Regions from separate parts of the Homo sapiens genome. Here region 2 is linked to region 1. The links come from fine-mapping of genetic effects on gene expression. A gene starts in region 1. The other region holds a variant in brackets. All regions are shown on one strand. Distances are between the middles of the regions. Region 1 holds the start of PKIB (cAMP-dependent protein kinase inhibitor beta). Region 2 overlaps PKIB (cAMP-dependent protein kinase inhibitor beta).

The links. PIP is the estimated chance that this variant, and not a neighbour inherited with it, causes the effect.
Region 2: its variant is fine-mapped to the expression of PKIB in lung (TOPMed, PIP above 0.99).

Annotation. Positions count from the first base shown.
Region 1 is chr6:122,609,081-122,612,001 of GRCh38, forward strand. PKIB (cAMP-dependent protein kinase inhibitor beta) reads left to right here and starts at 1,325. Exons shown (of 5, transcript NM_181795.3): 1 at 1,325-1,455. RefSeq lists a silencer at 1,176-1,355 and an enhancer at 1,972-2,617.
Region 2 is chr6:122,708,506-122,711,426 of GRCh38, forward strand. The region is part of intron 3 of PKIB (cAMP-dependent protein kinase inhibitor beta); the gene reads left to right. Among named protein-coding and RNA genes, the nearest start is that of FABP7, 70 kb to the right of the region's middle. The variant A/G (reference allele first, on the strand shown) is at 1,852.

The DNA of each region.
Region 1 (2,921 bases):
CCACACAAGTAACTATATTTTTATTAGGCGGGTGCAGAAGCTACTGCAGTTTTTGCCAGTACTTTTTTGCAATTACTTTTGCACTAACCTAATACAAAACAAAATGTGCCTACATCACAATTCAGAAAAATCACAGCTTTATTAGCAGAGTATAATTTAAGGAAGTCAATCAATCCTGAAGGCAGAAAGACCTAAGTTCAAAACTGATTTGGAATCTTCTCAGCTATTTAGCCTTGTTCAAAGTATCTAACCTTGCTGAACCTCAGTTTACTATCTGAAAATAGAGAAAATTATTACTATATTGTGGAGGTATGAATATTGAATAATTTAAAGAACTTGATTGTACTACCATTAGCACACACTGAATAAAATATTAGTCTGATTATATTTTCGTATTTCCATATTTAGGCTTTTGCCTAAAAAGGGAATTTGGAAGTGGTCATTGGCAGGTGTCATAGGCTTTGGGTGGCAAGTCAGAGCATAGTATGAATGAGCAAATTAGTAAAGACTAGAGATAAGAGAAGACTTTGAGTACTAATTAAGAGTTTCAGGAGACCAGAGGAGATTTTAAGACTTCAGTGAGAAACCACTTTCTCAGGAAGCAGATAAATTAATTTTATCAGCAGTATCGTCGTCCATGTAATATGGCTTTTAAAAAGCACAGTGAGACCTTAGTAGTAACGACTTTATTTTTCTTAGTGAGAACCTGAAAGTGAAACTTGATATACATTATTTTCTGCTTTTATTGCACAAAAAGTTGTTTCCATTGCATATTGCTTCCTAATCTGTTAAAATAATCTGTTAACAAACTCGAAGACCCAGATTCGGGGCGTAGATAAGCCTGTGTACCTTCCTACCTTCTCCAAACAGCCAACATTAGATCAAAGGGCAACCTTAATGACACCTGGAGCACAAACCCTGCTCAGGGCGCGTACAACCGGAGGGACAGAAAACACGATGCGACGTCGGAAAGCAGGAAGGGAATTGAAATTCCCGCAGTCACGTCACAGAAATCTTAGCAGAACCTCATCATCGCCCAAGGGAACTGGGAGTGGCGGGCGGGGAGGACGCGGGTTGTGTGACGATCACCGATAATTAGTTGGTGGTTAACGCACAAGTAGGATAAAAGAGCTCGCCCCAGGCTGCCAGCAGAAAAAAGCTACCGTGGCACGTGCCCCGGGGAGTGATGCGGTGGCCCGGTTTGCACGGAGAGCGGGACACCGCCTGGGGAGCCGCGCTCGTAGCCTGGGGGCGGGACGCGGCGGCCGCTCCCTCCGCCCCCGAGTAGCTGCCACCGCCTGGCTGCGCCCCAGCCCAGTAGCTCAGACGCGGCCGCATCCCGGTGGACTGTAGAGGCGGCAGCGAGCTAGAGCCCGAGTCGCAGCTCCGGGCCGCAGAGCGCTGGGCGAGCGCGAGCGCCAGGGCACCGGCAGGGCAGGCAGCTGCGCGCGGCTGGTACGTACCTGGTGGAGCGGGCGCGTGAGTGGGTGTCCCTATGCGAGGAGGGAGGAGTGGGACTTGGGAAGTCGGGGGAGACTGACCCAGGGAAGATGTGGTAAGTGCAACTTTCCTATTTTCTGCCCTGCTGGCACAAATATGGGGGGAGTTCGAAGCAGATGCCTCTTTCGCTTGGGCGACCCGATCCATCGTTTAACTCACAAGTCAGGGTACTTAGAGAGTGAAAAGGACGCTCACGCCAACAGGCGTGACGTGGGAGGTCTGTCACCTGCCTTTTGCCCACTCTGCCCTGCAGGTGGCCATTGATGACCTCCTGTCACAAGTCGCTGAGTCCTTCGGCTCTCGCGCCAGCAATGCCAAGTCTTTCCCCTGGGCGGTGCTTACCAAGCCCCGGGTAGTCACGAGCGGCCGCGGGGTTAGCAGAGACCCGAGTACTAACCCGCTCGGCCAGCGTCCGGCTGTGTGGCTTTAGCCAAGTCACCTCACCTCACTGGCCTCCGTCCATTCTTTGGATAAAATATGGAGGTGGGTAGACCGAGTAAACTCAAGGGTCGCCCGTAGCTATTGGATTTTCCCTGCTCCTAGGACCCCGGCAGGCCGCAGGGAGGGACACGAGTGCCAGGTGGTCGCGGGCTGAGGGAGCGGAGGGCCTGTGTTCCGGTTGGTGCTGATGCTAGCCCCTTGGGGAAATTCCTGAAGGTGCATTTCGGAGCCAAATGACCCTGCCTTGCAGCAGGTCCCTTCCAAGGGAGCTGAGAGGGCCAGGTCAGACCGGTCTTCGTAGAGCTCCCCGGGGAACGCAGCCAACGGAACTCGGGTCCTTTAGAAAAGTGCATGCGTGAACTAGGCATGTGGGAAGCACTAAAACAAACAACAAACAAACAACAAAACACCCTGCAGGTGGTAGTGTTATTAGCTGGAGTCTGTGCAGGACTGGAAAGTGGAGATTTGAGGCGAATGACCACTTAAACGTTCATCTAGAAAAAAAATTTTAAAAAAACTCTTTTATCAGTGGTTTGCATACTGAAAGGTATTGAATTAGAAATATTGCGAGTATTGCATTTCTCTTCGTGTACAGATAGATTTCAAAATTCATCTGTCCACTTTATCTCTTCACAAGATGCCTTCCTTCTTACTGACATTGCCACACATTCAAAAAAAATCCTCCTGGGATTTTATATTTAGAAAGCTCAGCATTTGGATTATTAAAATGAGAACTGATGACCATAATGCTCACGGAAAATGGGGTAGGTTATGGATCAAGTTTGGTTAAATCAGCAGTTTATAAACCTTGTTTCCTGTTAGTGTGCCGGGTGCTGGTCAATGCCCCCCTAGTGACACTATCTCAAGAGATCATTTGCTAAAAAGGTGTTTTGGAAGTTCAAAAGATTCGATTTTGAAGGAAAGTATAGCTTTGGAAAGGAAATCTTTTGGAAAACGTTTTTAGTAATGGACTTCTCAAT
Region 2 (2,921 bases), 99 kb after region 1:
GACTGGTGACTTGTATGGTTCAGATGTTGCAGAAACGTAGACAGGTTTGAGGGTGTGCTGGGAAGCAGATTGTAAATGATTTTTTGAATGCCTTTTTAAACAATATCAACTTTCTGGAAATGTCTCAGAGTTAATCTCTTTTTCTTGACATGGAGTCTTGCTCTGTTGCCCAGGCTGGAGTGTAGTAGCGTGATCTCAGGTCACTGCAACCTCCTCCTCCCGGGTTCAAGTGATTCTACTGCCTCAGCCTCCTGAGTAACTGGGATTACAGGCATGCGTCACCACGCCTGGCTAATTTTTGTATTTTTAGTAGATACTGGCCAGTAGATATTGGCCAGGCTGGTCTCAAACTCCTGACCTCAGGTGATCTGCCTGCCTCAGCCTCCCAAAACCCTGAGATTACAGGCATGAGCCATCACGCCCAGCTGCGTTAATCTCTTTCTGCCTACAGTCCAACATCAGAGGCTGTCTCTAGAGCCACGTCAACACTGTTGCTTAAAAGAATAATTGATATTCATAATGATACTCTGTCATAGTGCCTATAAATTTATATGACTGATATCTAAATAAATTCCATTTGTGTAGTTGTTAACCAAGCACATTTATAACATTAGTTCATTTGAGTCCAGGGTAGTAAAATAGATAATATAAATCCTACTTTTTAAAAATGTAGAATGCTAATCAACAAAGAAGTTAGATGTCTTTCTAGAAGTTGAAAGTCCAGGATTCAACTTCAGAAGTGTTCACTTTTAGGCGACCAAACTTCCCATTGCTCCATATAGACCGTGTAACAAACAAGAGGACTAAGGGCAGTCACTTTGAGAGTGTGTTAATGCAGTTAAGTAGTGCCCAAAGCTCTGCTTTCAAATCATCATTTAAAATAGTTTTATTTTGAATATGTGCAAATCTAAATTACCTAAGGAGGTTTTGAAAAGTAGCTGAAGTCATTCTTAGTACAAAGAGATGGGATCAAGTGGGAGTTTTTTTTTTTAATTAAAAACAGTTTACTATAAAATACGTTATATTTTAAATAGAACATGTTACCACTATTTGATGTATGAGTATAAAATGAGTTGCAATGATGGAGTCACAAAAACAGTTTCAGAAGTGGAATAAATATGTGGCTACTTAAAGTAATTGCTTTGATAGATGATACTCATTTCCATCTATAAATTTTGGTGTGTTAGTAAAAATAGTTCTATTATTTGGTATCACACTGCATTTTCCCTTTGAAAGATAAATAAGTATATATTAATTATAAATGCTTTCTGAAATGAAAGTTTAAAATTTAAAGTGTCCATGTGTATAACCATCAGATGTCCTAGATGAGGGTCGTACTGTATGAGTTTTTGCAGCAACTACTGCTCTGGCTCTACCAATCCAGGTTTACTACCCACATCTAAAAACCATTGTATTTGCCATTAGTCTACAGCCTGACTCCTATCTATTTTGATGTTAACAAAACAAAATCTATTTTAATACTGAATAACTGAACTTTCAGTCTTATTATTTATTTACTTTTGATCTTTATTATGAATATTAATAATGTAAAGGACCTTCATTTTCAGCTCATAATCGATAGGTATCAGCTATTAATTCAACATTGATTTATTGATTGTATTAAGCAGATATGTTCCAGTCTCTCTACTAGGCAGAGGGATATGAAGCCATTTCTATTGTGACCACATTGGTAAGAATTAACTTCCCCTTCTCTTCTTCCTACTGATGTCATAAACCGCCATTTGACATTTTAAAACCATATATCTCATTGAAAAGGGAACTGACTTTTTAGGCCTTGCATGTAAACCCCCAACACAGACGGCCGTGTTCCCTCTTTGTAGGGAAGAGTAC[A/G]AGCAGACCACAAGAACTTCAAAATCACATTGTACACAAGAACTTCAAAATCACATTATTTTCCCACTAGGGCAAATTCAGTGCTGGGGATTTTGTGTACTTGGAGTGTATTTGTGCCCCCTTTGAAATCTAAGAATACTTTGTGTACAATAGTAGTTGGAAAAGCAACTAAATGAGAAATGGGTGGTCTGAGGGCAGCCCTTCTCTGAAATTTGCTTACTTATTTTCTGGGGTTCCATTAAATGCTGTGTTCCCTGTGAAGCCTGGCCTCATTTTCTATCCTGGAATTAAGCGCTGCCTCCACTGCTCACGTGGTAAAGGTGCTAGCACGCAGCCTTCACAGACTGCCAGTTAAGGCATGGGAAGACCTTACTTACTGTGCCAAATTCCACAGTATCTAGCGTGGGGCTTTGCAGAGTTGGTGTTACATAAATGCTTTTTGAATTGAACCCTAACTTCTTTAAGCAGGCTCCAGTACCTCAATAAAATAAGAACCAACAATATTTGAGTCACTGGTTAGAAAGAATAATGTGAAACAAATGAAAGTGAAGGAGTATAAATAGGGTTTGAGGTAAGGTGGGAAAAAAAGAATGAGAAGGGTTTCTTCAAATCCGTGCTAAATCCTCTCAATTCTGAATACTCTGAAGCTAGAAATAAAAGCTAAACTATATAAAATGTAGACAGTAGGGATGCTTTGCTATGGTTATAACCACTTATATTCATCTAAAGGAGAAGTGAAAATATCACTGTATTCTGGATAACACCCAATATACATAGCACACACACACAAACACACACACCACACAGGGACACACACACCCCACTCAAGCTAATGTATTAAAAAGGAAACCTGTTTAATTTTTAGAAAGACTTTTTCATATACAGTGAATTTTCTTTTTTATTTTTATCCCTGTAGATAGCTGGGTTTGTTTTTGTTTTTTGTTACGGAAAGCAGCAGGAGGAATCATGGTAATGGAAGAAAGAGTACCGCCTAAACTTAGGAAAGACTTTGACACAAATTAAGCTATGTTATATTGATGCATCACTTAAGTGTCTGGATCTGGAAGTCT